2 separate regions of the Homo sapiens genome follow, and region 1 is linked to region 2. Evidence: fine-mapped expression QTL. A gene starts in region 2. The other region holds a variant in brackets. All regions are shown on one strand. Distances are between the middles of the regions. Region 1 overlaps EMC1 (ER membrane protein complex subunit 1). Region 2 holds the start of MRTO4 (MRT4 homolog, ribosome maturation factor).

Evidence for each region. PIP is the estimated chance that this variant, and not a neighbour inherited with it, causes the effect.
Region 1: its variant is fine-mapped to the expression of MRTO4 in liver (GTEx, PIP 0.94).

The regions. Positions count from the first base shown.
Region 1 is chr1:19,227,936-19,233,457 of GRCh38, forward strand. It overlaps EMC1 (ER membrane protein complex subunit 1), which reads right to left. Exons shown (of 23, transcript NM_015047.3): 14 at 5,001-5,200; 15 at 4,689-4,838; 16 at 3,326-3,487; 17 at 2,909-3,028. All of the region lies in intron 1 of EMC1-AS1 (EMC1 antisense RNA 1), which reads left to right. Among named protein-coding and RNA genes, the nearest start is that of EMC1-AS1, 20 kb to the left of the region's middle. The variant G/C (reference allele first, on the strand shown) is at 3,284.
Region 2 is chr1:19,248,853-19,253,852 of GRCh38, forward strand. MRTO4 (MRT4 homolog, ribosome maturation factor) reads left to right here and starts at 2,953. Exons shown (of 8, transcript NM_016183.4): 1 at 2,953-3,011. The coding sequence starts at 2,984. It overlaps EMC1 (ER membrane protein complex subunit 1), which reads right to left and starts at 2,672. Exons shown (of 23, transcript NM_015047.3): 1 at 2,563-2,672. The coding sequence starts at 2,657. RefSeq lists enhancers at 2,585-3,090, 4,907-5,000.

The DNA of each region.
Region 1 (5,522 bases), 21 kb before region 2:
TGGCTCACACCTGTAATCCCAGCACTTCGGGAGGCCGAGGCAGGTGGATCACCTGAGGTCGGGAGTTTGAGACCAGCCTGACCAACATAGAGAAACCACATCTCTACTAAAAATGCAAAATTAGCCGGGTGTGGTGGCGCATGCTTTTAATCCCAGGTACTCAGGAGGCTGAGGCAAGAGAATCACTTGAACCCAGGAGGTGGAGGTTGCAGTGAGCCGAGACTGCACCATTGCACTCCAGCCTGGGCAACAAGAGCGAAACTCCGGCTCAAAAAAAAAAAAAAAAAGATAATAAAGCCAGTAGGAAAGGAGGCGAACGCTCAATAGTATCCCGTTGTTTATCTGAGTAGGAAATATGCAAGGAAAATTTACCATTTATTACTAAACTCCAAGATCCCTGTATACTGGGGCCAGCAGTGAATGTCTAAGCTAACAGGGAGCTCAAAACATTTCGTGTATGATTGTTTATGGTCATAGGAAACCAACCAATAAACACTCATGGTTAAATACATTATTATACATCCATCCTATGGAATTATGCGGAGCCCTTGGGGGTGGAGACAGGAGGTAGTTACTGGCAAAGGGCACAAGGGCCTTCTAGGAGCTGGTGCTATTCTGTTTCCTGAAGTGGTCACCAGGTACACAAGTGTATTCCCTTGGTGAGGGTTCACTGAGCCATACCTCATGATTTTGCACTTTTGTCAATATTTTTCTGTAATAAAAAACTGAAGTTGACAAAACAATGAGGTAGAAAACCCATTAAATGAAAAAAAGCAAATTTCATAAGAATAAATATAGGTCAATTGCATGTGAATGAGAAAAAAAAATAAAATGGGCCGGGCGTGGTGGCTCACACCTGTAATCCCAGCACTTTCGGAGCCCGAGGCGGGAGGATCACTTGAGGTCAGGAGTTTGAGACCAGCCTGGTCAACATGGTGAAACCCCGTCTCTACTGAAAATACAAAAATTAGCCAGGCATGGTGGCGTGCACATGTAGTCTTGGGAAGCTGAGGCAGGAGAATCGCTTGAAACCAGGAGGCAGAGGTTGCAGTGAGCTGAGACTGCGCCCCTGCACTCCAGCCTGGGTGACAGAGCGAGACTCTGTCTCTAAAAAAAAATAAATAAAGTATGAGCCACACACGTGTGTCCACACAGCTGTTGATAGGGAATCATAAATACACAAGGACAGTAGAAAGAGGCACAGCAAACTGCTGACAGGCTTTCCACCTGGGGAGGGGAAGACCGCTGGGAATGGGGCTACAAGGGTCTGTTCACATTTTGCTTGTTCACCTCTCTGTATCAATGGACTCTTTTACAATGAGAATATACTCAATGTATTACCTAAATTTTTAAAATAGTGAAAATTATTAATAATAAGCCTTCATTGCCACAACCTTCTTTGAAAACATAAGAACTCACTAAAACATCCCCAGAGAGGAAGGTCACCAAGTGAGGGCAAAGGCAGCACACTCCCTTGTGGTCCCGGACTCGCGCACACAGCTGGCTCACTTCCCACAGACAGCTCTGCCTCCTTTGTCTTCCTTGGTCATTGTTCACTCAGATGATGTCCTCAGGACTCCAGATTCATGACACCCACACTCCAGTTCACTCCCCTGAATCTACAAAACTGTCTCTTTCAAGGTCCTCTTTTTATTAACTCAGAAGGATGATTTTATTTATTTATGTTTTCATTCACAAGGGTAAAGGATGTGTCTTCTGGGCAGACCATTTCCAGTGCTGTTTATGCTAAGGTTAGCTGTTACAAATGTCACAAAAGGGCGCTGCATTTTCAAAACAACAGCACCTCCAACTCAGATGGCATTTACCATGTGCCAGGCAGTTTTATGTGATTTATGTGTTGAATTCTCACAACAACCTTATGAGACAGGTACTTATCACCTTATTTTACAGATAAGAAAACAGAAGACCAGAGCCCAAGGTCACAAAGTTAGTAAGTGACAAACCTAGACTTCCAATCTAGCAAATTGGTTAAACTCTATGCCTCTCAAAAGGCCTTACAGGACAGGATGGGAGAGCTGTTTGTGAGTACACACCACAGAGTACTTCTCCAAACAGTCCTGCTAACAAGGCCATGCCAGCCCCTCGTGAACTTCAGAGCTGGACTTCACAGCCAGCGTGTATTACTGTTTACAAGAGTTGGTCTCAAGTATGTGAGGATTAAAGCAAACTGACCCCCTTTCTAGAAATAAAATTCAAAGCACACATTCCATCACGAGTTGGTCAACATCATCTTCATATAAAAGTACAACTTATTACTCAACCCACATTCCTACCTTCTACCCTCCCAAGAATGGAAAAAAAGTCCCATCTCTCTGCTATAGAAAAATAATGGGGCCAGGCGCGGTGGCTCACGCCTGTAATCCCAGCACTTTGGGAGGCTGAGGCAGGTGGATCACAAGGTCAGGAGTTTGAGACCATCCTGGCCAACACAGCAAAGCCCTGTCTCTACTAAAAATACAAAAAATTAGCCGGGCGCGGTGGCGCACGCCTGTAATCCCAGCTACTTGGGTGTCTGAGGCAGGAGAATCGCTTGAACCAAGGAGGCAGAGGTTGCAGTGAGCCGAGATCGCACCACTGCACTCCAGCCCGGGCGACAGTGCAAGACTCCATCTCAAAAAAAAAAAGAAAAAGAATGTGGAATGAAAGCTCCACAAGGGCAGAGATTTGTTCTACTGTGCACCACTCCATCCACAGCACCTAGAACCGTATCTGCCATGTAGTAGCTGCCCAACAAATATGAACAAATGATTGACTTTGTATCAGACATCAGGATTATGCTAATCTAAGTTTACAGTAGAATGAGTAGCATAATTCACTTCTTAGCCAAATGGCCAGGAAACACCTGCATCTCATCCACAAAGGGTTGTGCCAGGACATGCCTTCCTACCTTTCGAAGCCGATATCCACACAGCCGTCCCTGCTCTGCATCCACCAAATAGAAGAAGATGGAAGGGGCAAGCTCATGTAGCTGTCGCAAGACATTCCGAGTGGCTGGAAAAGCTGTGACCTTGAAAAACCCAGAGAGCCCAAGGAAAGAGTTAGGAAATTTCCCCATCAAAGAGAGCCTTAAGAATAAAACTGCAAATCAGTTGATTTGAACTCAGTTTAGGGTTTACATTCAGTTCTGTTAAGAACCTGAGTTTTCACAAATGCAGACACAGCCATCATTTCTCTTCGGGATGGCCTTAGAGCCCAAACACGTGCTGGGTGCAGAGAGCACTCCATCTCCGGGCCGCTGTGTTTGACCACCTGGCCCCAAACC[G/C]GACTCCGCTAGCATGTTCTCCATCCCCTCTGAAGACAGTACCTTGTATTCATCATCTATCAACAGCAACACCTTGGCGTAGTCTTGATCCATGACTGGGAGAAGCAAGGACTGCAAGATGGGGCGCTTCAGCACTGGGGGAGCTACCTGACTCCACTTCCCAAAAATGGGATTGAAGACATACAGAGAACTCATTCCCGACTCCTAAAATGAGCAAACTGTCAGGCTCCACCAACAAGAAAAGACTGCAAATCCTAGGGATAGACCTGAAGAGCTGGGACTCCAGCTCAACAACTGTGGGGGTTCTCTAGTCTTTGCCCTCTTTGTGGAAAATAAGTTCTTGGCTGTAGGTGAATAGTCCCCTAGGCTAACGTCACAAAGAAAAAAGTCAAACTGTCTCTGCCAGTTCTTTTTCGTTTGAGACAGGGTCTCTCTCTATCACCCAAGCTGGAAGTACAGTGGCATGATCAAGGCTCACTGCAACCTCTGCCTCCCAGGTTCAAGTGATCCTCCCACCTCAACCTCCCAAGTAGCTGGGACTACAGGCACAAACCACCACACGTGGCTAATTCTGTTTTTATTTTTTGTAGAGAGGGGTTTCACCATGTTGCCCAGGCTGGTCTCGAACTCCTGGACTCAAGCAATCCGCCCTCCTTGGCCTCCCAAAGTGCTGAGATTATAAGCGTGAGCCACCGCGCCTGGCTGCTCTGCCAGTTCTAAACAAGAACTAATAAAAAAGTCAAGTAACAATTCAGCAACCTGGCCGGGCGTGGTGGCTCACACCTGTAATCCCAGTACTTTGGGAGGCCGAGGCAGGTGGATCATCTAAGGTCAGGAGTTTGAGACCAGCCTGGCCAACATGGTGAGACCCTGTCTCTACTAAACATACAAAAATCAGCCGGGCATGATGGCGTGTGCCTGTAATCCCAGCTACTCGGGAGGCTGAGGCACAAGAATTGCTTGAACCTGGGAGGTGGAGGCTGCAGTGAGCCGAGATCGCACCAGGCAGCCGTTCCAGGAAAGTGTCTACCAAGCCCGCCTTCTATGCTAGAATGAATACACAAAAATCCATTCTAATTCTGGGAAGACACAAAAATATCTTTGTGTCCTGCTCTTCCTCAAAGAGAGAAGAGAAAATAGCCACTCAGCAACCAACAGCCAATGTTTAGAAAAGAGGAGAGCTGGCTCCCTACATAGCTGGTGAAGTCACACCCACTTTCTAAACAATTCCACATCAGTGCTGGATGGTTCCTCCACCCATGCATGAAACTAGAAGAAACAGAGTTCTAACCCCTGAATGTTCCTCATTAACTCACACAATTCCAAGGGCCTAGGAGCAATTTAAGTTACAAAATAGCAAAAAAGCCACACTGAGTCTGGCTCAAGTCAGAGCTGGATGCCTCACCTTGTCCTTCACCAGCAGGGTGCACTGTGGGGGATGGGGGAAATGAGCAGTAGTTCTCTGGACCATCAGTTTAAAGGAGGAGTCTGGCTTGACATTGGGTAGATACTGTTTCCACAGGATGGTGCCAGAGCTGCTCTCAATGCCAAAAAGCTGCAAGATAAACAAATACTTGGCTCACTACTAGAAAGAGAAACCAAAGAACTGAGTCTGTCCTTGAAAACTAGAACCAGTGTTATCCCTCACTGAAGGCTTTTTGTTCCTCACCCTCAGAATTTGAAAAGGTTCAGTAACTGGAGCTTAAACCCCACTCACCTTGCCTGAGGCTGTTACCATCACCATCATCTTCTGGAGGTTGAATTCATCTCTGGCCAGGGTGTCAATGTTGATCTCATTCTTAATCTGACTCCGGGGCTTCCGAGCATCATAAAACATTTTCCAGAGGTGGGAAGTCCATGCTTGCAGCAGGATAAGCTGAGACGAGAGGCGTTTCAGGAACATCCCCAGCAAGCCATCTGGTGTAAAGGAAAAGTAACATACTCTACATCAGACTAGGGGTCCATAAGGAGGTACATGATTTTCCTAATGAGGGATCTCTGCCTCTCCTCTGGAGCAATAAAGTCCACACTCTAGGCCACAAGCCCAAAGGGCAGTCCTGTATCTGATGCCCAAAGTCTCACACTCAGGTGAGGCTCATGCAGGAGCTTCCAAAAACTGCTTAACTGGCTCTTAACAACTAAACCCAGCTGGAATCTTGGAATAGGAGACTAAGAGGTCAGGGATCAGGCATGCAGGAGACAGCCATGCTGTGAATGTCTCCACCACAGCCCCACATCC
Region 2 (5,000 bases):
AAATTTTAGTATTGTAGGAAAAAGCTTATAGAATAAAGATATAAGAAAAATATTATTAAGTCAGGCATGGTAGCATATGCCTGTAATCCCAGTTGCTAGGGAGGCTGAGGCAGGAGGCTTGCTTGAGTCCAGGAGTTCAATATCTGCCTGGGGAACATAGCAAGATCCCATGTCAAAAATAAATTTTAAAAATATATTTTTGTACAGCTGTAAAGTCTGTGTTTTATACTAAGTATTATTACAAAAGTCAAAAATTAAAAAAATAAAATGTTTGTAAAGTAAAAAAGTTACATTAAGCTAAGGTTAACTTATTATTGAAGAAATTTTATAAATTTAGTATAGTCTAAATGCACAGTATTTATAAAGTCCACAGTAGTGTACAGTAATGTCCTAAGCCTTTACATTTACTCACCAACCACTTACTGACTAACCCCAGAACAACTCCTAGTTCTGCAAGATACATTCATGTTAAGTGCCCTATACCAGTGTACCATTTTTTATCTTTCATATCCTATTTTTACCATACATTTTCTATGTTTAGATACACAAATATTTACCATTGTGTTACAATTGCCTACAGTTTTCAGTAAAGTAACATGCCGTACAGGTTTGTAGCCTAGGAAGAATAGGCTGTACCATATAGCCTAGGTGTGTAGTAGGCTAAACCATCTAGATTTACATAAGTACATGCTACAACGTTTGCACAAGAGGGCATTTCTCAGGATGTATTCCCATCATTAAGTGATGCATACCTGTATGTCTTCATTTATTTTTCAATCTGAAAACTGTAGGCCAGGTGCAGTGGCTCACACCTGTAATCCCAGCACTTTGGGAGGCCGAGGCAGCCAGATTGCTTGAGCCCAGGTGTTCAAGACCAGCCTGGGCAACATGGCAAAACCCCGTCTCTACAAAAAATACAAAGAAACTGGAGAGGTGTGCACCAGTAGTCCCAGCTACTCAGGAGGCTGAGCTGGGAGGGTCACTTGAACCTGCAAGGTCAAAGCTGCAGTGAGCCATGATAGTACTGTACTCCAGCCTGGGCTACAGAATGAGTCCCTGTCTCAAAAAATTTTAAAAAGTCTTGGCTGGGCGCAGTGGCTCCCACCTGTAATTCCAACACTTTGGGAGGCCTAGGCGGGTGGATTACCTGAGATCGGGAGTTTGAGACCAGCCTGACCAACATGGAGAAACCCTGTCTCTACCAAAAATACAAAAATTAGCTGGGTGTGGTGGCGCATGCCTGTAATCCCAGCTACTCGGGAGGCTGAGGCAGGAGAATCGCTTGAACCCCAGAGGCGGAGGTTGTGGTGAGCCATGAGATCGCGCCATTACACTCCAGCCTGGGCAACAAGAGCAAAACTGTCTCAAAAAAAAAAAAAAAAAAAAAAAAAAAAAGTCTTAAACAGAGTCCTTTTCCCCCCTCATCAGCCTAACCTGGCCCTGGGCTCAGAGCAGAGCTGCCCAAGACACTAAGCAGTTAGGAAATGCCATTCATTCATTCATTCATTCATGAAAATAAAATTAAGAAAATTGCATATATCAAGTATTCTGCAAAATTAGATACACATATCACCCGATATATATGTGTAACATACACATATGACATTGTGAACAGTTGTGCACATCATTAAAAATGTAACATGTTTTATTTGTCACACTGTCTGGCATAACAGGTACTCAACATATATGCGAATCAACTTTTCCAAGACAGAAAATACTTCAGAGGAGGAGAAATCTGACCTGGGCCCTGAAGAATAAAGTGTAAATAGCAATAATAACAGATAACGCTTAATGACTGCATTCAATGAGCCAGGCATTGTGCTAAGTAATTTAATGGGATTGTCTCATTCATTCTCACAAGTACTGTAAGAGATAACGGACTGTTAGTAAACCCATTCTACAGACAAAGAAACCAAGGCACAGAGTGGTTAAGTCACTTTCCCCAAGATCACACAAGTCTTAACTAGTAAAATTCAAACAAAAGCAAGCTACTCCAGGGCCTTAAGGAAGACGTGGGTGGGTGAATGAATGAATGAGTGAATGGCATATTCTAGCTGCTTAGTGTTTTGGGCAATCCTGCTGTGAGCCCAGGGCCAGACTAGGTTGATGAGAGGGGAAAAGGACTCAGTTTAGGACTTTTAAGACGAAAGCTCCTGTTCACTTGCCTACAAGACACCAATTCGAGTAGGAATTAAAGTTCACTGACAGCTTGGCGACCTCTGACACCTGGTAGACCAGAAACCTCACAGTCAAAAAAATCGAACCTGACGAGGGAGGACGGGATCAGTGATCTCTGACCGGCACCCCAAGCATTCCTGGATGGCAGGGCCGGCTTACACGCAAGGATCAGCTTAGAATGACCCCTAACACTTGGTTTAAGGCTCTGCTTCCAACGACTTTAAATCCTTAATAATTTTTTAACAAGGGGCCCCACGTTTTCATTTTGTACTGGGTCCTGCAAATTATGCGGCCAATCCTGTTAAGTGACAACCTTTAGCAGGTAGGAGACAGGTACTGGGGAAACAGCCACTTATCTCTCGAATATGTTCCACACGTACGCACCAATCAAACTTGCCCACTTGGTCTTCGTAGACCGCGGCCGCAGGAATCAGCAGCGTAGCCCAAAGCCAGAAACGAGAAGCCCACTCAGCCGCCATGATGCGAGCGCATGCACCACCCACCGCCGTCCCGGCATGCACCGCGCCGCGGGCTCCGCCTCCGCGGGACCACAGAGCTGGGATAGCGCGCGAGGCCCTCGGTCGGACGGGACGCTCGGGATTCAGGGACTGCCTCGGCACACGGGAAGTTGCCCTACAGGCGCGGGAGAAAGCGCAGGCGGCGGCTTGGCAGGGAGAGGCAGGCTGCAGTGCACATTGGGTCAGGCACACGCGAGGGGCAGCCCCCGAGGGCCGTCCCAGAGTCCCCCGCGCCGCCGGGGTCCTAACGGGGTGCACCGTCTTCCGCCGCACGTGGATTCAGCGCGATGCCCAAATCCAAGCGCGACAAGAAAGGTGGGCGAAGGGGGAGTCGGGACCCTGGGGGGAGCTCCGTGGGCTGGCTACCCAGCCTGCGGTGAGGGCTTCGGGGCGGCGGGGGCGCAGATTGGAACGCCAGGACATCCTCGAGGTGTTCCGCTGCCTCGCTGCGAGCTGGAATGGGGGCTTCGGGGCTGTAAAACCGCCAGAGGTGGCTGACGCCCGGTCGGGTCTGGGGAGCGGAGACTCGTTTTGCCTAGTTTCAGGTGCTCTTGCAAGGCCAACTGGGTCGGGAGGCAGCTCCTGAACACCGCCCCCGGCTATGCCTGCTGCCGTTTCGGCCCACTTTTCCCAACTTCGGCCCTTTCTCATCTTCCTGCGCTCCCGCCACCCTGGCTGCCTTTCCCTTCTTTCAGCACAGGTTTGTTCCCGTGTCTGGCGTTGTGTGTCTGCGGTTGTTTCTGCCTGGCATGCTTACATCTTCGTATGGTTTGCGCCTTCTTAGTTGTCAGTTAATAGGATCCCTCTGAGACAGGGTCTCGCTCTGTTGCCCAGGCTGGAGTGCAGTGGCGCGATCGTAACACTGCAGGCCGGATGCGGTGGCTCACGCCTGTAATCCCAGCACTCTGGGAGGCCGAGGCGGGCGAATCATCTGAGGTCGGGAGTTCCCGACCAGCCTGGCCAATATGGTGAAACCCCTTTTCTACTAAAAATACTAAAAATTAGATGGGCATGGTGGCAGGTGCCTGTAATCCCAGCTACTTGGGAGACTGAGGCGGGAGAATCGCTTGAATCCGGGAGGCGGAGGTTGCAATGAGCCGAGATCGCTCCACTGTACTGCAGCCTGGGCACGACAGAGCGAGACTCCGTCTCAAAAATAAATAAATAAAATAAGTCACTGCAGCCTTGACCTCCTTGGCTTAAGCGATCCTCCCACCTCAACCTCCCGAGTAGCTGAGACTACAGGCGCACGCCACCACACCCAGCTAGGTTTTTTTTGTTTATTTTTTATAGAGAAGACTCAGTGTGTTGCCAAGCTGGTCTCGAACACCTGGGCTCCAACCACCCTCCCTGAGTGCTGGGATTACAGGCGTGAGCCACTACACCCGACTTGCGCACCTCTTAAGAGACCGTTTTTGACCACCTTTGCTGTGGTGGCCTCTCTCTTAACCCGGCTCCCTGGAATATTCAAAAATATTTAGGGGTCTGGCACTTTCTAGGCGTTAGAGGATACAGCAGTCACAAGGAAAGCCTATTTCTTATCGAGCCTAACGTTTTAGGAGAAACATATTCCGCAAAATGCTAAAAATCAGATTGAAAATGGGGTGAAGAGATGTTGATATTTTGTATAGTGTGGTCGGGAAAGGTCTCACTGATGAAGTGACAAATGAGCAGAAAATAAAGAAAGGAAGCGAGCAACCTGTGGAATTGAGCAGCTGTGGAATTATCTGGGAGAATGCTGTTCCAAGTAGAGGGAACCTGAAGTGAAAAGGCTCTGAAATGGGAGCAGATATGACGTGTTTGGGACAAGAGGCCAGTGAGGCTGGAGCAGAAGGAGCCAAATAGAGTTTGGGGAGGGAGTTAGGCAGAGAGGGCAGGACTTCCTCGGCCTTGGCAAGGCATTGGCTTTCCTGCCCAGGTGAAGTGAGTAGCAGAGGACCCATGTGATTTACCTTTACTTATGAAGGGTCACTCTGGTTGCCTTGGTGAGAATAGTTGGGGAAGACAGGGCAGAGGGCAGGAATGGAAGCAGTGAGACCAGCATTAATCCAAGACAGGGTGATGCTGGCTTGAGCCAAAGGTATAACAGTGGAAATGATGGGAAGTGGCCCGCTATATTTCGTTTGCCCTCCTCTGCTCCACTTACCATTGACTGATGTCATTGTCTTTGTCTGTGTGGTACCTAGTTAAGAGGGGCTGAGTGCGGGCAGGTTAAAGAAGAGAGGCCTGGGTCCCTTTGTGAAGGCGCCCGGGGCTTTGCAGTTGGAGTTCTGTTAAGTGTTTCTGGAACGATTTGATTCTGTG